Linked DNA regions of Homo sapiens. The protein of the gene in region 3 interacts with the protein of the main gene of each other region in a pairwise test. Each region holds a gene or a part of one and is shown on either strand. Other genes may lie near its edges. The genes, in order: USP15, PRDM6, CCDC57 and PRPF18.

What was found.
Region 1: the proteins of CCDC57 (region 3) and USP15 interact in binary tests that used the Homo sapiens proteins (3 or more experiments, as listed by UniProt).
Region 2: the proteins of CCDC57 (region 3) and PRDM6 interact in binary tests that used the Homo sapiens proteins (3 or more experiments, as listed by UniProt).
Region 4: the proteins of CCDC57 (region 3) and PRPF18 interact in binary tests that used the Homo sapiens proteins (3 or more experiments, as listed by UniProt).

Annotation. Positions count from the first base shown.
Region 1 is NC_000012.12:62,410,376-62,416,889, forward strand, and holds the end of USP15 (ubiquitin carboxyl-terminal hydrolase 15), read left to right. Parts: 3' UTR 1-6,014; downstream 6,015-6,514. UniProt on the Homo sapiens protein: Hydrolase that removes conjugated ubiquitin from target proteins and regulates various pathways such as the TGF-beta receptor signaling, NF-kappa-B and RNF41/NRDP1-PRKN pathways.
Region 2 is NC_000005.10:123,092,241-123,099,268, forward strand, and holds part of PRDM6 (putative histone-lysine N-methyltransferase PRDM6), read left to right. Parts: intron 1-6,986; exon of another isoform or gene 6,987-7,028. UniProt on the Homo sapiens protein: Putative histone methyltransferase that acts as a transcriptional repressor of smooth muscle gene expression.
Region 3 is NC_000017.11:82,167,822-82,174,849, forward strand, and holds part of CCDC57 (coiled-coil domain-containing protein 57), read right to left. Parts: intron 5,040-7,028; coding exon 4,817-5,039; intron 4,033-4,816; coding exon 3,880-4,032; intron 1-3,879. UniProt on the Homo sapiens protein: Pleiotropic regulator of centriole duplication, mitosis, and ciliogenesis. Critical interface between centrosome and microtubule-mediated cellular processes. Centriole duplication protein required for recruitment of CEP63, CEP152, and PLK4 to the centrosome.
Region 4 is NC_000010.11:13,603,958-13,610,985, reverse strand, and holds part of PRPF18 (pre-mRNA-splicing factor 18), read right to left. Parts: intron 5,356-7,028; coding exon 5,242-5,355; intron 948-5,241; coding exon 801-947; intron 1-800.

The DNA.
Region 1 (6,514 bases), on a different chromosome or scaffold from region 3:
CAAAAAAAAAGTAAAGATGGGAAAATTACTTATAGTATTTTTTTTTAATTTGAGAAAGAATTCCTGTAGGTCTCCCTTAAATAGTGACTTTGGTAAAGCTTTTTAATTTCTAGAACTCAGAGCTATATTCACTTTTGAGCTATGTACCTATTGTATAAGTTGAAGTAATACTGCAAATTCAAACAGTAAACATCATTAATCCTAGATATTTGGGTACTACCTACAGTGAGATATGGTAGGAAACATTCTACACTTACAACAACTTCCACCATAGCTAGCTCCAAACAGGTCATTAACCTCTGAATTACTGTTTTCACAACCATAAAATTATGCTGGTCTCTTGAAAGTATTAGTTTATGGGTGTGGAGAGGAAGGCTTAAATTTCATTTTTGAAGCTGTCGTTAAAAGTATATATTTTTAGCAAAGGAATTAATAACTAATAGCATTGATGAGTCAAGTTAATATTTGTTTTTGTTTTTTTTTTTTTTTAATTTTGGGCCTCACTCCTATAAAAGACTTGGAACAGAAGTCTTAGTATGATGGTAAACTTGAAAATTAAAATTTTATCAGGGATATTAGAATCCAATTATATGAGACTGCATCCTCAACAGGCACCTTGGTTGCAACACCATGAAAGACCTTGATCCAGAGGTTCTCAGCAAGCCACACCTGAATTCCTAACCCACAAAAACTGTGAGATAACAGATGTTTGTGTTTTTAGCTGCTAAGCTTTAATTTGTTTATGCAGAAATAAGGGAAAAGGACCCTAGAGATCCTTGAGGAATCCCACTTTACAGATGTAGAAGCTGAGGGCTAGAAGGAGAAAAGTCATGTACACAAAGTCTGGAGACAACTCAGATAGTCACTACATCCTCTTGCTCTTTCTCATTTTTACTCTTTAACTGGCTCCTCACTTTTTAGATGGATGGCACTGGGCTCTGGAGCAAACCATCTGTTCTGTATCTGTTAAGGCCTCTAGAGCTTCATTCATTCCTTCATCAAATATTTTTTGAGTGTCCACTATGTGCCAGGCACTATTCTAGATTCAAGATATAAAGTAATATACAAAAACAAAATCCAGTTACAAATATAATTTTTAAAGCTATTTGTGAGCATAACTTCGTAACACATTTAGAACCTTTGCCTTCAGCTGACATGAATTATGTTGTCTTTTTGTTTTTTGGTCCAGTTTCATTAGTCATTAAAGTCATTTGAATTAAAGACAATAATCCAGACTCCAGAGGTTATGGCTTTTATGTGTTTGGATACTGTCATAGTCTGCTCAGGCTGCCATAACAAACACAGACTGGGTGGCTTAAATAACAGAAATTTATATTTTCACAGTTCTGGAGGCTGGGAATCTGAGATCAGGGTACCAGTATACTGGGTTTCTGGTGAGGGTGCCTTTCCTGGCTTACAGATGGCTGCCTTCTCACTGTGTTCTTGCATGGTAGCAGAGGAGGGTCAGAGAGGAGAGCAAGCTCTGAGGCATCTCTTTTTTATAAGGGCACTAATCCCGTCATGAAGCCCTCACCCTCATGACCTCATCTAAACCTAATTATCTCCTAAAGACTTCCTCTCCAAATACTATTTAAGGCTTCAACCTGAATTTGGAGGTGACACAGTTGAGCCCATAGCAGATATATTTAGTAACAACTGTGGGTACAGGCATGCCTCAGATATTGCAGGTTCGGTTCCCAGCCACCATAAATATTTAAATAAAGTGAGTCACAAATTTTTTGGTTTCCCAGTGCATATAAAAGGCATATTTACCCTATACTGTAGTCTATTAACTGCAATAACATTGTGCCTAAAAAAGATGTACATGCCTTAATTTTCAAACTATTGCCAAAAAATGCTAAATAACCATCAGAGCCTTCAGCAAGTAGTAATGTTTTTGCTGATGGACAGTCTTGCCTCATTTTGATAGATACTCACCAGGATGGTGGTTGCTGAAGGTTAGGGTGGCCGTGGCAATTTTTTACAATAAGACAGTAGTGAAGTTTGCTTCATCAATTGACTCTTCCTTTTACAAGAGATTTCTCTGGCATGCAGTGCTATTTGATAATATTTGATACCCACAGTAGAACTTCTTTCCGAACTTCTTTCACAATTGGAGTTAATCTTCTAAAGCCCCGCCACTGCTTCATCAACTAAGTTTATGGAATATTCTAAATCCTTTGTTGTCTTTTCAACAATGTTCACAGCATCTTCACCAGGAGAAGACTTTCCCCCCTTCTTTTCACAGATGTTGAGATTGTCAAGAAACTACTTTCCTTGCCCACCCATAAGAAGCAACTTATCATCTGTTCAAGTTTTATCATAAGATTGCAGCAATCCAGACACATCTTCAGGCTCCACTTGTAGTTCTCTTGCTATTTTCACCGCATCTGCAGTTACTGCCGCCACTGAGGTTTTGAACTTCTCAAAGTCATGAAAGTTGTAATTAACTTCTTTCAAACTCTTGTTAATGTTGATATTTTGACTCCCATGAATCACAAATATTCTGAATGAATGGCATCCAGAATAGCAAATCCTTTTCAGAAGGTTTTTATTTTGCCCAGATCCATCAGAGGAATCACTATCTATGAAAGCTTTTGCCTTATAAAATGTATTTCTTGGATGATAAGACTTGAAAGCTGAAGTTATTCTTTGATCTATGGCTGCAGAATGGATGTTGTGTTAGCAGGCAGAAAAACACTAATCTCATACATCTCCATAGAGCTCTTGGGTGACCAGGTGCACTTGTCAATGAGCAGTAATATTTTGAAAGGAATCTTTTTCTGAGCAATAGATCTCCGCAGTGGGCTTAAAATATTTAGTAAACCTTCCTATAAACGGATGTGCTACCATCCAGGCTTTATGGTTCCTTTTATAGAGCAAAAACATTATATTTAGTTTAATTTTAAGGACCCTAGGATTTTTGGAATGATAAATGAACATTAGTTAGCATTGCATTGGCCCCTAACAAGAAATCAGTCTCTCGTTTGAAGCCAAGCATCAACTTTTCTCTAGCTATGAAAGTCCTGGATGACATCTTCCAACATAAGACTTTCATCTACATTGAAAGTTTGTTTTTAGTGTAACTACCTTCATCAATGATCTTAGCTAGATCTTCTGGATAACTTGCTGTAGTTTCTACTTTAGCAGTTGCTGCTTCACCTTATGCTTGTCTGTTGTGGAGACAGCTTGTTTCCTTAAACTCCATGAATCAACCACTGCTAGCTTCAGACTTTTCTTCTGCAGCTTCCTTACCTTAGCCTCCATAGAATTGAAGAGAGAGGGCCTTGCTCTGCGTTAGGCTTTGGCTTAAGATAGTGTTGTGGCTGATTTGATCTATTAAAAAAAAAAAAACTCAGGCTTTCTCTATACCACTTTTCTTATGATTCATGTGTTCACTTGAGTAGCACTTTTAATTTCAGGAACTCTTCCTTTGGATATACAACTTGGCTGTTTGGCTCAAGAGGCCTAGCTTTCAGCTTGCCTTGGCTTTCAACATGCTTTCCTCACTAAGCTCCAATCATTTATAGCATTTGATTGAGAGAGAGAGAGAGATGTACAGCTCTTCACCTGAACATTTAGAGGCCATTGGATGGTTATTAACTGGCCTGGTTTTAATAGTGTTATGTCTCAGGGAATAGGGAGGCACATGGAGAGGGAGAGAGATGGGGAATGGCCAGTGGAGCAGTTGGAACACACACGTCTGTGCCCTCAAACAAAACAGTAACATCAAAGATTACTGATCACAGATCACCGTAACAGATACAATAATAATGAAGACATTTGAAATGTGAGAAGTACCAAGATATGACACACACACAGTAAGCACATTCTGTTAGGAAAATAACACCTATAGATGTGCTCAATGTAGGCTTGCCACAAGCCTTGTTTGTAAAAAAACAAAAACAATTATCTTCAAAGCATGATAATAAAGTGAAGCAGAATAAAACAAGGTATGCCTGGTTTTTGTTTTGTTTTGTTTTGAGACAAGGTCTTTCTCTGTCACCCAGGCTGGAGTGCAGTGGCACAATCTCATCTCACTGCAGCCTCCAGCCTCTGGGCTCAAGTGGTCCTCCCACCTCAGCCTCCGAAGTAGCTGGGTCTACAGGCATGTGCCACCACACCACACCTGGCTAATTTTTGTAGAGACCAGGTTTCACCATGTTACCCAGGCTGGTTTTGAAGTCTTGAACTCAGGCGATCCATCCACCTCGGCCTCCCAAAGTGCTGGGATTACAGGCATGAACCACAGCACCTGGCCATGTATTTTCATTTAACCAGTACTAAATAACTACATGTCTTTGGCAGCCTATAATGTAGCATCCCATTTTTAAAAATAGAAGTGTGTATTCAGGGTGCACTCAATAGGATTACATCTGGCTGGCAGTCCCTTCCTACTTCAGTCCATTATCCTGCTACCAGAATGATCTTCATGGTTTCATTTAAAAAAAAAAAAAATGAGATCCTGTTTCTGTCTTAAAGTTCTCTTCTAATTCCTTGTATTAATCAGGATTCTCCAGAGAAACAAGACCAATAGGATGCATATGTGTATACACATATATGTATAGCTCTCTCCCTCATATATACACATATCATGTATATACATATATATCATATATGTACATATATATATATATATATGAGGGAGAGAAAGATTTATAAGGAATTAGTTCATGCACTTAGGCTGAGAAGTCTCATGATCTTCAGTCAGCAGGCTGGAGACCCAGGAATGCCAATGGTGTAGTTCAAGTCCGAGTCCAAAGGGTTGAGAACCAGGAAAACCAATGATAAAAGTTCCAGTCCACAAGCTACCTGGCTAAAGACCCAGGAAGACTGAATGTTTCAGTTTTAGTGCAAAGGCAGGAAAAGACTGATGTCCCAGTTCAATCAGGCAAGAGAAATTATCCTTACTTGAGCCTTTTTTGTTCTATTCAGGCCTTCAATTCATGAGAGCCACCAACATTAGAGAGGGCAATCTGCCTTACTCAGTCTACTGACTTAAATGTTAATCTCATCCAAAAACACCCTCATAGATATGCCCAGAATAATGTTTGACCACATATCTGGGCACCCTGTGGCCCAGTCAACACATTAAATAAACCATCACATCCCTTCATGTAGAAAAGAGTGGTTTGGACCATAGGCTCAGGAGTTAAACCACCTCTGAGCCTACCACTTTTGTGCAACTCACCTCACCTCTCTGCCTTTCACCTCTCTGTAAACTAGAGCAGCTCCCGAATGTCCATCTAGGAAGGCTTGGGGTGAGCAACCTGATTAGAAGGGAACAATGTGACTTAAAACTGCATATTTGCTTAGCAAACCTATGACTTTTCTCAGAATATACAGTTTGCTTGTGATGGAGGGCTATTAATATTTATAAGGAAACCAAATCCCCATTCACTTAAGCCATCCACTCCTACCACTGTAATTGAATATTACCTACCTTTCAGAATAATTGCAAGGTTTTGTGTCTTGATCATTATGAAAAATGTGGCAGGTATTATTACTAATAAAGAAGTACCCAACTATGGGAATGATTGTTCCTTCCTTATGAATGAGAGCAGCTCTCTGTTCAATACGATTCATACTCAAGTTCTAATAAACTTTCTTTAGCAAGAGAGCAAAGAGTATGGTACAGTCAGTCCACCCAGGTTGCCTGTTAACCTGGTGCTTGAAGGAAAAAAAGTAAGAATTTGCCCTCATCTAATTCCTCACTTGCCCTCAAACATGTCATACTACTTGACAATGGGGCTTTCCCACATTTGTCCCACATTTGCATGGTCTGCCTTATCTCTTACCTGGCGAACTCCTACACTCCTTCAAGACTTGCTCCAAAATGCACTTGCTAGATCTTCTGACATCAACTGCCACCTTGGGCTATAAGTTACGTGTGTCTCTTCCCCCACTAGACAATTACCTGATGGAAGAATATTGTTCTTAAGATGTTAAGATGGTGTATGTGTGGCATAGTATTTGTTCCTAAATGTAAAAGTTATTAAACAAGTTTTCTGAAAGTCTGAAGCTTTATTGTGTTTATTGTGATTGTGTTGTATTCCTGACATGTTGCTGGCTACATATTTTAACAGCTTTAAAAGTAATTTACCTTATGAATGTGCACTAAAAACGTACATTTTAGATATACTAACATTTTAAGTTCGGTATTTATGAATTTGGAATATTCAAGATTAAATGTAGAAAATTTATATTTCATTTATATTTTTCTAAAGAAGTTTTAATTGTAAGGAATTCTTTTTTCCAGTAAGGAAGATACAGTTGCTATCTCTTGCTCCAGTTGGAGGGCATCCTGAATTCCCATTTGTTCAGACGCTTTTCACAACTTGGAGCTTCTGGCATCTCCACAAAAATAATACTTTGACTACACAAGGCCAGGAATACTTTTTTGAGTTGGGGATACCCCAAACATTTATCTGTTCAATACAGTTGTCCAAAGACAAGGAATGTACTCTTGATTTGGGTTCTTTGTCACCTCAAAAATCTATATTACACCTTAGAC
Region 2 (7,028 bases), on a different chromosome or scaffold from region 3:
GCAAGTATTTTAAATTATGAAATAAAAAGATTTTTAAACTGCCTTGGAAAAGGTATGTCTTACTGCTAAGTGAAATATAGCCATTGCAGGCTGAGAATGCTTCATCAATCTTGCAATTTCACTTCTGAATTAAATATATGCTAGAGAAGTCACCAGCAGTACACCCCAAATCCCTGGCTGTGTGCTGAGCTCCTGTACTGTTTACAATGCAGTCTGGAAAATTAATACGTTTTCACCAGAGAAAACAGACTAATTCGAGAAAGAATTAGGATAGATTCCTAATTAATATATGGGTATTGAACCAGTTTATTGCCTGGGTAACTTTTTTCTCTGGTTGGAGAAAATAAATTACAATTTTATTTAAATAATTTATATTGTGTTAATCTTCTGGTATCTCCTTTTGAGCCAACTGGATTGTTTCAGTGTTTGAAGTGCAGGGGAAAAGACAGAAGGGAAAGAAAATTAGATTGTCCTATTAGAGTTACACCCCACGTTGCTCACTAATTAAAGGGCAATTGAGAAAGAAAATAGAAAGCTGAGATAGCGCTGTGTAATGCTGGGAGACGAGATCTCCCATTCTTCCAGGAACTTCTCTGGACAAGCAAGCTTAGGCACTCATTTGAAGCCATGGGATGTACTTTTACAAAGATGAAACGTGATTGAGTTTAATCTAAGTAGGGGCTTAAAACAAGTCAGAAATGCAAATAGTGGGAAACTCGTTTCCTTTGGCAGGGGAAGTTGGCATAATGGTTATTGAAAGGCTGTGAAAAACAGAAGCTTCTCCTCATTCTCGAGTTGTATGTGAGTGGAGGTGGAGTGAAAGGAAGGGTGGAGGCAGAGGGAAGCTCCTATTAATTTATCATGTATAGATTTCCCTAGTTTTTCTTTTAGTTTTTTTACCATCTCCCTCTAAAAGAATTCTGTGAAGTGACCACTTAGCATTGCTTCATTTTGTCACTTCGTACTTAAAAGGATAGGTATTGAGTTGTTTTCTCTTTTTCTCACAAGGCGAAATAAAAAGGGCGGGATGCGGGGGTGCCTCCTTACTTCTCCCTTCCCTTTAGCAAAGTAACTTTTTGCCTAGGATCAGCAATACATATCATTGCTCTGTAAGAAAAGAACTTAGGAACACTAGTTTCACCTTGAAACTTTATTGGCATCTATGGTAAATGTCACAGTGATGGGGCTTGTAGCTCTCTTTCGTTCTAAAAGATTTTAAAACAGCAGAAACTGCAAGCTACCCGGGTGAGCTTTTCCAGTATGTTCCTAACTCCGTATCAGTTTACCCTGTGACTGAAGTACAGTTTCCACCGAAGCTCTGAATGCTTTGCTGTTGCTGCTGCTGCCGCCTTCTCTTAAAAATCAAGTGGTGCCTCCTGCGATATAAATGGGGGATGGGGCCCTTCCTTCCCCGTCTAATATTACTGCCCTCATTTGCTGCTGGGCTGCCTGAAGCCATTGATTTAGTCAGGCTCCATCGGAGTGGCCTCTTCCCGGGTTCTGGGAGCTGGTGCGTTGCCTGCTCTTGAAAAGTAGAGAGAGACAGTCACAGGGCGCGCCTGGCGTTTCTGAGTAGCATCCCGGCTGTTCTCTCAGCACAGCCCATTAGTTTTTCAGGCCTTTTTTGTAAAGATGTGCTTCCCTAGGACCTGGGAGGGAGGCGGGAACTGAGCCACTTTGGGTGTCTCGGGGGAGAGTTGGACCACTTTGCAAATTCCCCAGTTGGGGGAGGGGTCTCTGTCCCCTCCCGATTTACTGGAACCCTCCTGCGCAGGGAACAGGCTGGAAACAGCGCCGGTGTGTGCATGGGTGTGGGAGCGGGGCTTGAGGCTTCCTTGTTGGGAACACCAGGCTTTCCAAGGGTTTAGGGAGAGGGGCTGGGGAGAGAAAAGGGAGTCTGGGCCTAACACTGGTTTGTCCGGTTGCTTGCTAAGGGGTCAAGGAAAGAGACAAAGGAGGGCGAGTGTTTTCTGACCTTCCCTAATCCCTTCCCACCCAGGTGGAAAACGCAGGTCCTGTTTGGGCAACTTCGAGCCCAGTGGCACACCAGCAGGCTTTTTGTGCAACCGAGGAACATCCACTGCGCCCCTTCTGCCCTGCGCCTCCTCTGTCAAAGACCAGCGAGCGCCTTAGATTGCAGACCTGGTCCGGGTGGGAGGGAGCTTTGGCTTCAGTGCGTGGGCTTTTGTGTTTCTCTCTCTCTCTCTCTCTCTCTCTCGCGTGTGTGCAAGCCCAGCCTCATCCCATAACACACATGATTTAGCTATTTTACATCTTTCGTTATCTAGCGCCCTGAAACCGAACATACAGCCATATATTAGATTGAGGTTAGAAGAGGTGGCGACTGTTTATTCAAGGTGATAAAATGGTCCATCAGCAGTAATCTCCATCGATATGTGCCACCAGGAGATGAAGGATGAGGGGACAAGCCACAATTAATTGCCCTATAGTTTTGTAGGAGAGAGTGGAGCCAGCCCAGACCCGCTTCGATCTCCTCTCGCGGCTCCTATTCATCATCTCCGCATTGTATATGGCAGCCTCGCAGGGGCAGGGGCCGGCGAGGTTTATCTCTGCGCAATATTCTCTCACCCTCACAAACTGGCGCTCCCATTTAATTTATTAATACAGTCATCGGAAGACAAATAAGACCCACATTTTCTCCCTCCCACCTTCTTGCTCTCTTCTTTTTGTCTCTCCCTCTTGGTCCCAGGGTCAAGCCCGCAGCCAGGCAGGGCAGAGAACGCCCAGAGCTTTTGCGATTCGCGGGGAGCTTTAAACTCGCGTAGAGGGAGAGTTCCTGAGAGAATTCCCAGGAGCTGGGCCGCCCCGCAGGGTCGAGACTGAAATCAATTGGCTCCCCTTCCGGCGGCCAGGCAAACCTGCCTCGCCTCTGGATCTGCTTCTAGACCCGCTCCCGGGGCTTGGAAGACCCCTGCCGGGTAGAGGAGGAGGGCCGGGTGGGTGGCGGGGTGCAGTGGGGACGTCGGATCGTGGGTGGTGTCGGCGGCCACGCCTCATGTCAGAAGAGAGCCTTTCGTGGGCAGGAGCGGGGTGGGACCTTCAAAACTCAGCCTTCGGCGCTGAGGCCTGGGCGCCCCACCCCGCCCATCGCTCCCTTTCAGCCATCCCATCTAGCCTATAGCTCGAGAAGGCAGTGGGGGGACCGCAGGCTGGAGCCCCGGGGGCGTGAACCCCACGCGAGAAGTTCGGGCCCGGATGCTCTGCCTGCCCGCCCTCTGCCCGGCTCCCCAGCCCCCACGCCCCTCCCCGCCTAGGGCGCACGCGGCACTGCCAGCAGGCGGCACTCCCGGGTCCTAGTCGCCGGGCTGGGATCGATGGGCGCCGGCCCCTCGGGTCTCGGCCTGCGAGACTGAGGGCCGCGACCTTGGCGGCGGTAGGGGAGGATTTACAGCCGGGGTGGATAGTGGCGCCCAGGCGGGGAAGCAGGCTTTTCACCTACTCCTTGCTTTCCTATATGCAGGGCGGGTGAGAGCCAACGAAGGCGTCGGGCAGGTACTGGGGAGTGAAGATGTGATGTAGCTCTCACTCCCCACGCGCCTACACATGACTGTTGGCCTCTCCACACACCAAAAGCCCGGAAGCGTTTTATATTTCACCTTTCCTAGAACGAGAAATGAAATTCCAGAAAAGAAAACCATGGCCTGCTTTGCCGCCTTTACCTTAAAATAGATATATTGTAAAGATCTATTGCACTTTAAAGACATTGAAACAACACAGAAGGATAGGAAATGAAGAGTGAAAGTCTGCTCTTAACTGCACTTGGCCTGGCCTTCTGATGCCAGGAGGCGAACAAGTCTGTAACCTAATGACAGCACCTTCCTTTACTCAGAGACGCTTAGACAGGAGCATTGACAGATTTACTCAAGATAGAAGAGTATTTATGAATAACAATTATGAACTTGTACAAAAACTCTTCCCCTGATTTTAAGAGAAAGTATGAACATTTACTTGCTTCCTTGTTAGGAACCTAAGTAGTTGTATTATGTATTGCTTGGCTTGGAATGCTCTGTGTGTGTATATATAATATAATGACATATATTATATACATTTATACATAGTTTGGTCCTCTCATATAGCCTGCTTCTCTTTCAAACCTTTTCATGTAGGTGTTTATACTCTGCTAGAATGTTTGTCTTCTTAAGCATATTTGTCAATCCCAAGAAATGTTACTTGTTTTTAATATCCTCAAGCTACCCTGAGACTCAGACATAAGTTAGAACCCAAATGTTTCAGCTGGGGGATTTTGTGTATTAAAAAATAACATTGGAATATAACATGTATCTTGATGGCAGTTGGTCAACTTTTCTGGCAGAATATTTTGATATAGCATGAAGTGGTTCACAAATTAAGAAGACCCCTGTTGGGTGGACTAATTAAAGTTGATTGACTTTGTCTAGCCTGCTGTGGACCTAACACACAGATAGTCTTCTAGATATTGGGAGAGCCTCAGTTTTTCACTTTTAATAGTAGCATAATGCTACTATTAAGTTTTTCAACTCTTTATGGAGACAAATGAAACAATAAGTTGAAGACGGCTTTAGAGGACTTCTTGGAGAAAGGCCTTAGCCACAGTTTTATTATCATGCATTACAAATATTAGAAGTGTGCTTTTTGTCTATGGAGGTAGTGGCTGGAGTTGGTACCTATGCTGATGTCGTTGATGGGATGACACGTGTGGAGAAGCATGTTGGAAGTTGACTGTCTCTGGCACAGGCTGCTAGGGAATGAAAACTAAACACTCTTCTGACCATTTGCATCATTGAGTCAAGCAGAAAAAAAAATCAGTTAAGTAACTCCCTGGAGTGACTTATTTCTATTTCCATGGGCATATTGCCTTTGCTTATTGTCATTTGCTTTTAGCTATTTTTGCAAAGGTGCTGAAAGGCTGTCTCTGAAGTCAGACAGTAACATTCAAAATTATAGACATTATCTATGTATTTTCCTATCCAATCTCTTACTTTAATGTCCGAAAACACAAGAGTGTGGGAAAGAGAGAAACCTCTATAACTCAATCATGCTACAGCAATTTTCATGGCCCCCAAAGTTACTTCAGTGAAATATTTCAATTCAATTGAGTCATGAGTTTGAATGTTAAATTTCCCCAGCTTTCATTAGTCTTTTAAAAATCTCTGGGTTTAGAGGCCTTGCAGTCAGGCAGCCTTGACTGTGAATCCTTTCTCTGCCACTTTCTAGCTTCTGGTTCTTGGTGGAGTAGTAGTGCTTGGGAATTGCTTTATCTGCAGAATGGGAATCATGATACTTAGATAATATGCTGGTTTTTGGTTCTAGACAGGTGTCTGACACATGGTATGCACTGTAATTGTGTTTATTGTCTTTCATGTAATTCCCAAAATGTCTTGAAGTTTTTATTTTCACAATCAATAAGCTTGAGAGGGTGTGTGAAGTGTGTGTGTTTCAGAGGAGTTGACATATGGATAAGTGTGAGAATACTCCCATCCAGGCCCTGGGGTCAAAAGCAGAGTCTGGGAGAATTTTAACAATAGTTTGTGTTGCTGGCAGAGGAAGGACAGAAGAGGGCCTTTGTGCAAGGGAGGCCCAGCGGCATGGACACTTCTCTGCTTTCCGAAACAAGTTGTTGCTTTTCACTTCAGAGGTCTGGGGACATTTCTGAGAAGCTTGCAGCCCTCATTCTTCCAGCTCTCTTGGGAGGAGTAGAGGAGTAGCTGCTGACTGAGGCAAAGGTTTGGCTGGCTAGAGCCCCCTCCAGTGAGACAGGAGGCTTACATAGTCAGCCCTCCTTTGCTGTGAAGCAAATGGCAAATCGAGGGCTCCCTTACCATGCTGGGTTGCGATTAGCTGTTCCTGACACAAACGTTTCATACAGACTCACAAGTTTCTTGGGCATTTCGGTCATTTCAGCGCAGATAGGGCACATCCAGGGTGATCCAACAGGCCTGGCTGCGGCCAAGGCTGGCGGCGGCAGGTACCCGGGTGCCCCGAGGGCCACCCGCCGCCCCGCTCTGGCGCATCCATCAGTGGCCAGCTTTCACCGTGTCTGCCAGGCGGGACTCGCCAGGTGTCAGGCTCAGTGCCATAAGCCTGACACTTGCGCGGGGTCGCCGTGGCTCCTCAGGGAAGCTGGGCCAAGGAGGCTGGGTCGCGCCGGCGGGCGCCGAGGCCACCTTCTCGGGGCAGGCCATCCGCGCTGAGGCGCAGACACGGCGGCTCCTCCAGGCCCATTAATAACCCGGAGGGCGCTGCGATCCGACAGCGCAGTCGCCACAGGCTCTATTTCCCGTGGCCGCCTGCCTCCTTCCAGCCCAGTTCGAGTGGAGGGATACTGGGCGCCCACTACCGCCCGGCCCGGAGGGTGGGGGTCCCTCTCGCGCAGGCTGCTTTGGAGAGTGTCGGAGAGAGACAGCTTTATCTACAGCTTCACCCATTGTATAGCACAACAGAATCGCATTTAGCCTGGAGAACAGCCGTCGGGGCAGGAGTTGGTGCCTTCTCTAACAATTAGGCTGATCGTTAAATTTGCTATTCCTTTCTTCCGGCGTCTAGGGAGAGCGTGCACACCAAACCCTCCAGAACAGCACCCCGGTCCCCCACCCCGCCCCACCTGTCCCCGCCCTGCTTCAGTGCCTGGAGGGAGAACTGACTGGTCGCTTGAGGGACCCCATTTCGGGCGCGCCCTTGGAGTCCTGGGGCTGCGGCTCCTGCTCTACCGGGCTGCAGGCTTGCTCTGCCCCGTCCCGTGGCGTTTGGGAGGCAGTCGAGGAAGCCTCCGAGTCTCTGGGTCGAAGGAAGTGCGAATGGCACCCGCGATAGACTGGCCGTCTCCCCCACCCCGCCCCGTCTGGTGATTTTAAATCGTCTCCTGTGTAATTGTAAAAAGAGGAAAGCTGAATACCCAGACGACCAGTATAGAATCTCTTCGAGACAGCAGATTGGGCAAGAGACGGGCTTTTTTTCGCAATACAAGGATAAACACATCCTGAAACTCCAGATAGAAACCTCAGGAATGGGCGAGAGGGTCAGAAGGAACG
Region 3 (7,028 bases):
GCCAGGCTGGCCTTCAACTACTGACCTCAGGTGATCCACCTGCCTTGGCCTCCCAAAGTGCTGGGATGACAGGCATGAGCCACGGCGCCCGGCCTGTCAACGTAATTTTAAGAGTTAAGTGTGAAAGAATGTCTATCATATTCATCCTTGCCATTAGTTTTCCTTCACTCCTGACATTCCTAGTTTCCTTCCTTCTGTTGTGTCTAAAGTACCTCCTTTATCAGTTCTTTTAGATCCAGTCTGCTGGTGACAAACTTTTCCTTCATCTGAGAATGTCTTTATTCACTCTCATTCCTGAAGAATATTTTTACTGAATGTATAATTATGGGTTGACAGTTTTTTGCTTTCAGTACTTGAAAAATATTATGCCACTTCCTTCTGAGGAGAAATCTGATGACAGCTGCTGCTGAGAACCCACTACCGCTCCAGTCACTGTCCCCTGTGGGCTGTGCATCGCTCTCTCTGTGTGCTTTCAACAGTTTTTGTCTTTAGGCCGGGCGCAGTGGCTCACGCCTGTAATTCCAGCACTTTGGGAGGCCAGCGCAAGTGGATCACCTGAGGCCAGAAGTTCGAGACCAGCCTGGCCAACATGGTGAAACCCTGTCTCTACTAACAATACAAACGCCACCAGCTGGGCATGGTGGCACATGCCTGTAACCCTAGCTACTTTGGAGGCTGAGGCATGAGAATCGCTCGAACCCAGGAGGCAGAGGTTGCAGTGAGCCGAGATTGTGCCACTGCACTCCAGCCTGGGCAACAGAGACTCCGTCTCAAAAAACAAGAAATTCATTTCAAATATAAAAGAGAGAGGTAGGTAAAAAGAAAAAGGGATGAAAAAGTTATACCACGCGAATGCTAATCAAAAGAAAGCCCGAGTGGATTAATTAATATCAGACAAGGTAGACTTCAGAACAAAGAATGTTGCCAGACAAAGAGGAAGATTACGTAACAATATAAGGGTCAATTATCCTAAAAAAAAAAAACCCTAAATGTATACACATCTAACAACAAAGATACAAAATATATGAAACAAAAACAAAGAATCGTGATTTAAAAAATAAAGATCTATATTAAAACAGGAATAGAAAGAAACTTCCTTAACCTCCCTCCACTACCCCCACCACAAAAAACCTTCAGCAAAAACTCAACCTAAAAAAGTGAAATGCTGAAAGTTCTTCCTCTGGGATTAGGGAGAAAGACAGCTATTATCAACATCATACCGGAGAGTTTAGCTAGGGGCGATAATGCAAGAAGAAGTAAACAATATCAGCATTGGAAAAGAAAAATAAAACCTCCCTTATTTTATTTTACTTTATTTTTTTTGAGATGGAGTCTCGCTCTGTTACCTAGGCTGGAGTGTAGTGGTGCAATCTCGGCTCACTGCAACCTCCGCCTCCTGGGTTCAAGTGATTCTCCTGCCTCAGCCTCCCAAGTGGCTGGGATTACAGGTGCCTGCCACCACGCCCAGCTAATTTTTTTGTATTTTTAGTAGAGACGGGGTTTCACCATGTTGGCCAGGCTGGTCTCAAACTCCCGACCTCAGGTGATCCACCCACCTCGGCCTCCCAAAGTGCTGGGATTACAGGCGTGAGCCACTGCGCCCGGCAAAAACCTCCCCTATTTGAGACAATCTGTGCCAGTGGAGTGTCCTGTCTGGCCCCTCCCTTTCTTTTCCTGCCTTAGGCCTGCAGATGGGGCCTGCCTCCCCTACACTAAGGGGGGCTGTGGCTCCAGCAGGGTGAAGGCATCTGTGTGGAAGGCAGCCAGGCTGGGCTGTCAAGCTCGGTGATGCTGGGGAGGCATCCAGGCAGGAGAGGGGCCTGCAAATAGGGGAAGGGGCCACAGCAGCAATGGGGGATTGGTTACACCAAGAGGACTCGATCAAAGTAACTGTGTTAGTGATAATGGGCGAGCCAGGTTTCTCATTATTGGGAAAGGAAGTTAGAATAATGAAAAAGAAAGCTAGAATGCTAGAATGAACCTTTTGATGTTGGACTAACCACAATGGAATAGATTAGCCTATGAGTTTGTCTTGAAATTAAGACCTTCCATTCACCAAAGACACCAGTGAAGGAATAAAAGGCAAGCCATAGACTGGGAGAAGATATTTGCAACACATATAACCAACGCTAGGCTCATATTCAGCATAAAATACCCTAAAAAAATCTATGACAAAGGGCAGATGATCCAATAAACAATGGGCAAAAGACATGGCCTGGAGCTCCAAAAGAGGGGCTGTCGAAAGGCCAATTCTATGGACTGAGCTCTGCCCCCCAAAATTTACGGGTTGAAGCTCTCACCCCGAACATGACTGTATTTGGAGACAGCGCCTCTGAGGAGGCAGCTAAGGTTACATGAGGTCCTAAGGCTGGGGCCCTGGACTGTTGTCCTTACAAGAAGAGGAAGAGTCGGGCGCGGTGTCTCACGCCTGTCATCCCAGCACTTTGGGAGGCTCAGGTAGGCAGATCACGAGGTCAGGAGTTCGGGACCAGCCTGACCAACGTGGTGAAACCTCATCTCTACTAAAAATACAAAAATTAGCCGGGCGTGGTGGCATGCACCTGTAATCCCAGCTACTCAGGAGGCTGAGGCAGGAGAATCGCTTGAACTTGGGAGGCAGAGGCTGCAATGAGCCAAAATCATGCCACTGCACTCCACCCTGGGCAACAGAGCAAGACTCTGTCCCAAAAAAAAAAAAAAAAAAGAGGAAGAGACACCAGGAGTGAGCATGCAGCGGGGGAGGAGTCACGTGAGCACGCAGGGGGAGAGTCCACATGAGCACGCAGGGGAGAGGGTGCCGTCTGCAAGCCACAGAGAGGCCTCAGGAGGAACCCACCCTGCCGGCAACCTGATCTCTGACATCCAGACTCCAGAAGTGAGAAAATAAAACCGTTGTTTAAGCCACTCAGGCTGTGGTGTTGAGTTACGGCAGCCCTAGCCAATCATACGCCAATGCACACAGGAAGAGATGTTCAATCCCACGAATCTCATGAATTTGCAAATTAAACCAAAATAGGATGTGCTACGTGTCCACTAGAGGGAACAGAAGGAGCCGCTGACCACGTAAGTGTTGGCGCGCATGCAGCACCACGGCTACCTCGCACGATGTGGATGGATGCTTTGGAGAAGAATCTGGCATTATCAAGTGAAACACAGTGTAGGTCTGAAGACGCCAGACAGAAGCACAGGTGCCACAGAATTCCATTCACACCAAAACAGGGAGCGCTGACTGCAGTGAGCAGCCAGGGCACGTGGGCTCCGGAGGGAGCACAAGGAATTCCATTCACACCAAAACAGGGAGCGCTGACTGCAGTGAGGAGCCAGGGCACGTGGGCTCCGGAGGGAGCACAAGGAATTCCATTCACACCAAAACAGGGAGCGCTGACTGCAGTGAGGAGCCAGGGCACGTGGGCTCCGGAGGGAGCGCGAGGAATTCCATTCACACCAAAACAGGGAGCGCTGACTGCAGTGAGGAGCCAGGGCACGTGGGCTCTGGAGGTAGCTCCAGGAATTCCATTCACACCAAAACAGGGAGGGCTGACTGCAGTGAGGAGCCAGGGCACGTGGGCTCTGGAGGGAGCACAAGGAATTCCATTCACACCAAAACAGGGAACGCTGACTGCAGTGAGGAGCCAGGGCACGTGGGCTCCGGAGGGAGCACAAGGAATTCCATTCACACCAAAACAGGGAACGCTGACTGCAGTGAGGAGCCAGGGCACGTGGGCTCTGGAGGGAGCACAAGGGGCTGCTGGGCTGGATGACGCCGCCCCAACGTCTGCAGTAGCCTTGAGCTGTATATTTGCTATGAGCGGACTTTTGCAGGGGTCAGATTTCAGTTTATAAGGGGACAGCAAGTACCCCACTGAGACGCGGACTTACCAGTCGTCTCTGTCGAGGTGCGGACGCTGGGCTGAGACTCAGCATGAGGTGAGGACATCTTTAAAGGATCCAACACATCTTCTAGATGCTTTTCCAGAGTTTTAAACTTATGCTTTAGAGTTCGTATTTCTGCTTCAAGGGCCAGAACATAATCTGCCAAAAAAACCTCCAGTGAATATAACACATACACAGCATCCTTTCGCACCTCCCTCCTGTGAGCACCAGCTCAGGGAGCCGATGCCAGCTCATGCCCGCCAGCTTCACTGTCCCTGTCCTCCTCACACTACAGCTTCACCGTAGTTTCCACACTCTCTGTGTGTGTCAGACTGAAAGACCTTCCCTCCCCTCACTGGCCAGAGTGTGCCAGCCAGAGACCAGCACAGTCTCCATGCTCTCCAGGAAGGGCTCAGTGATCAGGAGCAAATGCTCCACCTGCCGCCAGCCCACGTGCCTCTGTGCAGAGGGGCCAAGTCCCATCTCGAGAACGGAAGCTCTGCCTCCATCCCGGCATCTGCCCACCCACAGCCACTCATGGGGTCCCTGGGGGTCGGGAGGCCCTCATCAGCTCTGCCACAGACGCTCCTCTGGAGGAAAGGACTGAGGTCCACCAGCCCCTGCTACCAACCCATTCTGGGACAGCGCGACAGCAAGCCAGCCCTGGTCCAGGTCTAAAACAGGTTTTTAAGTGTGTCAAGCAGGTACCCTCATTTTTTCCTTCCACTTTACAAATATAAAAGCTTTTTGGTATAAAACTTAAGATCCCTTCTCTTGGAGAAAAAGCAGTTTTCATACTTTGAGTTTATTACAGGGGATGTTAACTTATAGGACTCTGAAATGAAGCCTCCTTGAAGCCAGTCAAGACCCATGCTCCCGTCTGTCCTCCTCCCTCCCTCTCCCCCTTCCTCTCCCGCTCTGTCCGTTTCTCCCACTTACTCACCAGGAGTGGCGGCATCTCCCCCAGCCTCTGGGTCAGGCTGGTTTGCATCTGTGCTCTCTGCCGCTGTCTGGATGGGAGGAGGAATCTGATGGCTTAGAGCCTCCATTTCTTTCCTCATCTGGGCAATCGCGTTTCGCAAGCTCGTGTTCTGCTCTCGGAGCCGCTGGATCTCACTGGATGGAAAGTCTTTACTTATTTCTTCTTCATGCTGCCTGAGAAGCATCTGTCAAATACAAGGAAAAATGGCTACAAAAAGATGAATGGTTCCCCAGCTTGTCCTGACAGGCTGTGCCTCCGCTCTCCCCGCGCCCCTCTCGGGCCGGTCCCCCGCTTCAGCTTGGGCTGTGGTCCCTCCCCATCCCCAGGCTGTGATGCCCCTCCTTTCTGACAGAAGTGCAAATATGACACTCAAATTCCTGGAGCCTTTCATACTTTTGAGATCCCTAGAGTGTCCAATCCACAGAGGCAGAAAGTGGAATGGGGGTGCTGGGGCTGTGGGCGGGGAGGGGGAGCCAGTGTTTCTTGGGGACAGAGCTTCAGTATGGAAAGATGAGAATGTTCTGGAGAGGGTGGTGTGATGGCTGCACCTCCGTGTGAATGCGCTTCATGCTGCTGAACTGTGTGCACCAAAAAATAGTTAAAGCAGCCAGTTTTGCGTTATGTATACTTTAGTACAATCAAACATCCACTAAATAGGATGAAGAGCAGGTTCAGAGCGCGCAGAAGAAAAGGCAGTGAATATAAACACCTGGCAACAGAAAATACCCAAACTGAAGCTCAGAAGGAAAGGTGCCAAAGAAGAAAAAATGAGCAGAGCTCTGGAGACCATGAACAAGGTGCACAAGGAACCAGGAGCCCAGATGAACGCAAAGACAGGAGACGCGTCTACAACAAGGCCAGACATGTTACAAATGTGCTGAAAGCCACACATCACAGATGACGAAGCAAATGAGCTGAAAGCCGACATCACAGATGACGAAGCTCAGTGAACCCTAAGCAGGATAAACAGAAAGAAAATCATACCAAACAGCACATAATCAAGCTGCTGAAAAATCAGCAACAAAATGGAAACTCTAAAAGCAACCCGAGAAAAGAGACATGTTACCCTAGGGTCAAAGGGCAGGCATAGGGATGACAGACCCCGCAAGGAGCCACCAAGGCGGGAGGACAACGAGGTGAGGTGGCTCCGGTGCAGGAGGAGAGACAGGCCCCGCCCACCCAGTTCCTAGGGAGAGGGAGTGTCCTTCTCTAACCAAAGGTGAGGGGCGCTTCTGCCTCTGACCAGGAGGGACTCACTGCCATGAGTCTTTCCCTGCGGCTGTGAACAACTAGAACACCAGACACATTAGAGGAAACACCTGCTTCCAGACGCCAGCATAGACCCCAGATACGGGAGAGGGAAACAAAGTCCCAGGGTCTGGCCCAACTCAACCTTGAGTCCAGCCAAGATGTGTGCAAAAGGCACAGCTTCCTCTCCTGTGGAGCCACCCTGAGGGACGCAGAGCCTGCTCCCTACTCTGCACTCCATGAACACAAACCTGAAGCAAGATCTGGGCCCTTCCCAGGACGCTCTGACTGCCCGCTGGCTCCTCCGTGCTCCCTGGCAAGGCCAGCTGGCCTGGGCTCCCAGGAGGAGAGCTTCACACGCTGCGCTCAGGGGTGGAGAGGATGCGAACAGAACCTGCACCTCAACTGGCAGTTTAGAAACGGAGACAGTGCGATGCCTAACCCTGTTTTTACTCTAACTCGCTACTTTAAATTTTGCCCTGTTTGTCTCTTTAATCACCTAGCCTTGTTTCTCATGTAAATAAGACTCTCTCTAGCTGGGAAAGCCGGACAAACTCCAACTGACCCCTTAATTTACAAGACACTAAGGGCTCCTTACCCAACCCCCTTCCGCAAGGAGTTGACCTGTGTAAGCAGATCCTCAGCATTTCAAAGGAGCCCAATTAACTGATAAGGTACTGGCACCAACAACGTCTGAAGTTCCCAGGATTCTTCTCAAAGAGATAACAACATAAAGCCTTGAGTTCGTGTCCGGCATAGCATCTATGTCTAACTATAATGAAGGATTTAGAGCCCTGCACCTGGTACCGTTGCTTTTTGTAACCATTTGTCTTTTAAATTGTTTATCGCTCTGTAACCATTTGCTTCTTTTGATTCTTGCATGTTTTTACTTCTGTAGAATTATTGCCTTTGAGTTCCCCTCCCC
Region 4 (7,028 bases), on a different chromosome or scaffold from region 3:
ATTTATTTTACATGCTACTTACATGATACAAAATTGCTTTTTAATTAAGATTATACACTAACACTCCAAAAGCAGCACTATAGCAAAAATCAGACAGCAAGATATTGCCAAGCGTTGGCAGGGCTGGAAAGACAGGGGACCCTCACACTGCTGGGTGTAGACTAGGACAGCCATTCCAGAGAGTAACTTGGCAGTACTTAGACAAGTTAAATATACATATATAAATCCCACAATCCCACTTTGCTAGGCCATCGTGGTTATGCACAAGACTGTTCATCAGGAAGCTGTTTGTGGTAGGAGAGAGCTGGGAACAATCTAGCTGTCCATCATTACCGGAGAACAAAAAGTCAAATGCAGTGAATGGCGTAACACATGGAATCCTATGTAGCAATTAAAAGCAAAGGATTCAGTGTACACAGAGCATCAAGGATAGCTCTTAAAAACATAGTGCTAACTGAAAAAAAGAAAAGTAAAACACGGAATAAAGAATTTCACAGCATAACATCATTTATGTAAATCAAAAATACATGCTCACAAAACACTGCAGGTCACAAGAGCACCAACAAACAGAAAGATGCATATCCAACATATTAGAATGGGTTCCTTTTGAAGGCAGGAAGTAGGGGAATGTGAGTGGAGGATGAGAAAAAGGGGAGTAAATAAATAAAAGCGAGGAGTAAATAAACAAAAGACCAAGGACAACAGTGTGCTCTGCCCTCAACAATCTGCCCGACTCAGTCATCTGCTCCAGAGGAAAAAGAAGGGTGCCAGGGATGTGCTGGGCTTGGTGTAGAGATTACCTCTAACTCTTCAATTGTGGTGTTTTCCTCATGAACTTTCAGATCATTCTGTGTGTCTTCCTCTCCAGGCTCCTGACCGCCGACGATTTCATTGAGGTACTGCTGATCAATCTTATCCAAGGCTGCTTTCAAATCATTCCTCAATCCCTAAGAAAAGCAAAAAAAGGAAGAACACCTGTTATGAAAGGAAGAACACCTGTTTTTTCACCTTTGATTTTTCATTAATAACTGCAAATATTTTTTCCCCCACAAGAAGAGTTCAGCAAAAGTAGGGACTCAAATCACATCAATTTATCACACAACTATCACTACTGTCCATTTAAAGTTAATTCTTACGGACCTATTTAAATTAAAACAATGCACAAACAATGGCCAGTCTGCTGGTCAGAAAAATAAAATACACGTGAGTGACAAATCCAAGTAAGAATCTTCATCAATGCTGTAATTTTCTAATGAGGCTTAGTGACAGTGGCAGGTCTCCATTAGAGTCCCCAACCCGTTTGCCCAGCTCATTTACAATGTCTAACCTCAACTACTGTGAACTCCCAAAACATTCAGAAACATCAGTGTAATAAAATTGGTGCCTCATCTATATCCCAGGTTCTCAACTATGTTTCTAGCAAACCAGCAAATTCGCATTTTATGCACATATGGTTCATGACCCTTTAATGAAAATGGAAGCCTCATCTTCCTAAAAATGAATGAGAATCAGCTGCAAGGTTTAAGAGCCAAGGAAACATGGCTGTGAGGCGGCTATAGGGTAATGGTTGAGAGTAAAAGCTATCTGGGTTCAAATCCTTGCCACATACTATTAAATAGCTCTTTGAAAGCTTGCTTAACCCCTGTGTGCCTCAGTAGACTCACCTACAGAATAGGAGTAATGGCACCATCTACTACGTAGGGCTGTAATAAGGATGCTATTTTTTATTTCAGTGAACAGTTACTATGTGATGCAGCTGTTCCAGAACCTCGCAAACATCAAGTCACGCAAGTAAGCTAAGAAATGGACGATGAGCTTTGAACAGTTACTGGAGCACGGTGCACATTCAACCAATGTTAACTCCTAACGTTCTCACACAAAAAGCATCTGATCATTGTCTCCTGTCCCTTCATAAACACAGAAGAGAAACATTCAACTCAAAACACTTATAATTTCTCAAACACTGACTGATCACCTGCTGTGTAAAAAGTATGACGCCAGGCATTCCCAGAGGTCACCTCATCGAATTCTCAGTGCATCCCAGTGAGCCAAATATCACTGCCTCTGTTTTACCAATGAAGATTCTAAGGTTCAAATAGAGTAAAAGACTTGCCAACGGCCAAATAATTGATTACTATAATCCAGGAATGGAATCCAGACCTTGTGCTCCTGTGCTTTGTCCTCAAAACCTCTAGATGCACGGCACAGGACTTGGCATACAAAGGTAAAACAGCCTTTGCCCACCAGGAAGAGATAAATATGCACATAACTCTAATAATAGCGAAAAACAGTAAGTACACTAACAAAGGTTTACTCATAGGCACATGGAGAAGGAAGCAATTAATTCTGACTGGGACCAAAAATAGATTCCGAGAGAAGATGTGGTCACTGAATTGCATGTGAAAGTATAAAAACAAGATTTCAACCAGAGCATACAAGGCAGAAACACAGCAAGCAAAGGAAAAATGATCATTACAGACACAGAGGACTGAAAGCAACTGCTAGTGTTGTGGGGCTGGAATGACAATGCTGGGAAGTAAAGCAGGAAAGTGGTTTGGCAACAAAGAAAGCAGTCAGACAGCCCAGGCTAGCAGACAGAGCAGGTCGGGGAGCGGGCCTGGCCAGCCCCAGCTGTTCCTGCCATTCCAACTGAGACGCCAGGAAAGGGGCAAGATATCAGCTTAGAAGACCAGTCCAGAGGCAGCCTCACATGATTTCGGCCGCAGCCTTCATCTGACTGCAATCACAATAAAGACCCCAAGCAAGATACTGCTCAATCCAGCCCAATAAAACCACAGAACTGGTAATTATTAAGACAATAACAAATTATCTTAAGCTATCAAGTTTCAGGGTGGCTTGTTAATCACCAAAAACAGATTTGGTAATGATAAATCCTTTATAATAAATAAACAAACACTAGTAAGTTTTGGAGTAGTCTGTTACATAGTCATAGGTAACCACACCTGTCTCTCAATAATTGAGAAAGCAAGTAGATAAAAAGTTAGCAAGGCCAAAGAAGATCTGAACAACACTATCATCACTGACATTTGTAGAACTGTACCATGAAAGCAAAACAATACTCTTTTCAAGAGCCCATGGAATAAACCATATGCTAAGCCATAAAACAAGATCAGAGCCTTAAATGTAAAGCAAAAACTATAATATTAAGCTTCTAGAAGAAAATTAAGAATATATATTTGAAATCTTGGGATAGGCAAAGATTTCTTAAGCAGGACACAAAAAGCAATGACCATAAAAGGAAAAAACAATAAATTGGACTTCATTAAAATATAAAACTTCTGGCCCGGGCACTTCGGGAGGCCAAGGCGGGAGGATCCCTTGAGTAGAGGAGTTCAAGATCAGCCTGGGCAACATGAGGAGGCCTCATCTCTACAAAAATTAAAAAATCAGCCAGGCATGGTGGCACACACCTGTGGTCTCAGCTACTTGGAAGGCTGAGGTGGGAGATCGCTTAAGCCCAGGAGCTAGAGGTTGCAGTTAGCCATGATCATGCTGAACTCCAGCCTGGGTGAGAGTGAGACCCTGTCTCAAAAAGCGTGTGTGTACACACACACAAACTTCTGTTCAGCAAAAGATTCAATTAAGAGAACAGGTAAGCCCTAAACTACAAGAAAATAGTCACAAAAAATATTCGTATATCTGACAAAGAACTTCTATCCAGAATATACAAAGAATTCCTATAATCCATTTACAAAAAGACAAGTTTATTTTTAAAATGAACAAAAAGCGCCTGTAATCCCAGCTACTTGAGAGGCTGAGGTGGGAGGACTGCTTAAGCCCAGGAGGTTGCAGCTGCCATGAGCCATGATTATGCCACCGCATTCCAGCGTAGGTGACGGAGTGAGACTCTGTGTCAAAAAAATAAATAAATAAGGAAAGAAAGACTTTAACAGACACTACACAAATGAACACAACTTTATGAAAAGATGCTCCTCATCTTTAGTCATCAGGTAATGTGATTAAAGCCGCAAAGAGCTACTACCAGACACAAAAGAGAATGGTTAAAATTAAAAAGACTAACAATACCACATGCTGGGGTTTGGAAATGACTGGCATTTCTTATGAAGTTAAGCATACATCTACTCTTATTATCCAGCAATTCTACTTCTAGGTATCTCCCCAAGAGACCTATTTATTTACCCAAGAAAAATAACATAGTTCCAAAAAAAGATCTGCATAAGAATGGTCATAGCAGTTTTATCCCTGTTTTTTTTTTTTTTTTTTTTTTTTTGAGAAGGAGTCTCACTCTGTCGCCAGGCTGGAGTGCAGTGGCACAATCTCAGCTCACTGCAACCTCCACCTCCCGGATTCAAGTGATTCTCTTGCCTCAGCCTCCCAAGTAGCTGGGAATACAGGCACACGCCACTACGCCCAGCTAATTTTTGTATTTTTAGTAGAGACGGGGTTTCACCATGTTGGCCAGGATGGTCTCGATCTCTTCACCTTGTGATCCACCTGCCTCAGCCTCCCAAAGTGCTGGGATTACAGGCTTGTGCCACCACGCCCAGCCAGCAGTTTTATTCCTAATAGCCCAAAGCTGGAAACAAATTTTGATATATTCATACAACTGAGTATCACTGGAAAATGAAAAGGAAACCAGTGGTATCTGCAATAACATGGATGAACCTAAAAACTGATATGCTGAGCGAAAGAAGCCAGACACACAATCTATGAGTCCATCTGTATGAAATACAAGAACAAGCAAAATTAATCCATGATGACAAAATTCAAATGGTGGCTGCCCAGGAAGGGATGAGGAGAAATATGAGGATAGGCTGAGAAGGGGTACTGGGGAAATTTCCTTTTTCTCTTTTTTTTCAACTTTTAAGTTCAGGGATACAGCTGCAGGATGACAGGTTTGTTACATAGGGAAACGTGTGTCGTGGTGGTTTACTTCACAGATCATCCCATCACCCAGCTATTGAGCCCAGCATCCATTCGCTATTCTTCCTGATGCTCTCAGGGAAATTTCTTTGGTGACGAAAATGTTCTATTTCTTTATAAGGGCAATGGTTATATGCTTGTATGTATTTGTCAAAATGCATTAAATGTTATACTTAAGATATGAGCTTTTCAAAAAATTAATGAAAACTTCCATTCAGCAGCAATAATCTGCTCACTTTACTTTTCCATTGTTGCCTACAATAATGCAATTAGTCAAACTCTATTCTAGTGAATGCAGTACAGTGGTATTTTTCTAGCTTTGTTCTGTCCTCTTACCTTGTTAACTTCTGGTGTGAGGATCTCTATTTTCCTTAAACGTTGAAAAGCATCATAATCAGTCTCTCCAAATAGTCTGATTGGTTCTCCTCTTTCTCTCAATCTTCTGATGACCTACAAAGTGAAACAGATACCCAGTAAATTTTTTTTTTTTTTTTTTTTTTTGAGACAGTCTCACTCTGTTGCCCAGGCTGGAGTGCAGTGGTGCGATCTCGGCTCACTGCAAGCTCCGCCTCCCAGGTTCAAGCGATTCTCCTGCCTCAGCCTCCCGAGTAGCTGGGACTACAGGCGCCCGCCACCACACCCAGCTAACTTTTGTATTTTTAGTAGAGATGGGGTTTCACCATGTTGGCCAGGATGGTCTCAGTCTCCTGCCCTTGTGATCCGCCTGCCTCGGGCTCCCAAAGTGCTGGGATTACAGGCGTGAGCTAATGTGCCCAGCTATTAAACTTTTGAGAGAGGAAAAAACTAAACATCTCAAAAACAATTTGTATATTGTACCTTAAAAGCCAAGCCTGGGTTTAATAAAAGCTAATTATCCAAATACATGCCTCTGTGTAAAGTATAAAATCCTTCAAATATTTTAGATCATTTCAATTAAGCTAAACAAAGATGTTTCCAAATCAAAGAGAAAATCAAGTACTTTAAAAATCTATTTTGACTCAAAAGTCACTGTTATTAATTTTATCACTGAACAGCTCCTAGAAAGTGGTCTGACCTATGACTCTACAATTCAAGTCTAAAGAAAGACCCTAATATAAACCACCTCTTTTACTGTGAGATTTTTAAAAAATTCTTTTTTGTAAGAAAAGGGGCATGTCTGTGGCCCTCATTTTACATAATTATAACTGTTCTTAGTCTTCTTTTAAAAACAATGGAAAGACAATAGTAATCCCTTATGTCAGCATATTTTTGGTGATCAAACACTTGTTTTGAAATGTAGATGAAAAAAGTAATCTGTTTATTCTTTTAATTTTCCATAAACAGATATACTGTGTTACCATCACACCTTAAGTAACCATAAAGTTTAGGTCGTTTAGCTCACTGCTTCGATAGGACCAATCTGTGTGGCAGGACACACAGGAAAAACACTAAGATGGGAGGGAATGACAGCATTTATAGAGAGAAGGAAAATCAAATCTGAAGCCAGCTGATAATTACCATAATGGACAGTCTGCATTGTAATACCACCATGAAACCAAAAACTTCTCCCTCAGAAAACAGGGAGTTATAATCTGCATATGCAGAGCTTTTAAGATGCTGAAAATCTATTTCCAAACTTGGGTGATGGTTACATGAATATTTATTTTATAATTATTCATATATGTGTAACAAACATATATTGCCCTAACATGGTTCATACACTTTATATACATGCTATGTATGTCATTTTAAAAAGGAAGAAAGAAACAGAAAACGTAATAAATACTAGTCCAAATTTTTTAAATAAAGCAATAATGAGAAACACCAAGAGCTTTACCTGGGAGCATAAATAGCATCACACCTAAAATCCATTGAGAGGGCTCCCAGTGGATTAACAGAAGTTTGAGATTAAAACAGAAATTTAAGAGGTCATCTAGTGCTATCTCCAATCAATGCAGAAATGACCTCACAAACACCCTTGTCAGATCCCTGGCTGACAAATGGCAGGAATCACATTTCTTCGTGAAACATCCCATCCCATTGTTTAGACAGAGATGTTTTGCTTCTCAAAACTGAAATCTACTTCCCCCAAACTTCTACCCATTTATCCCAGTTCCACTTTATGAAACTACAGAGAATATTCT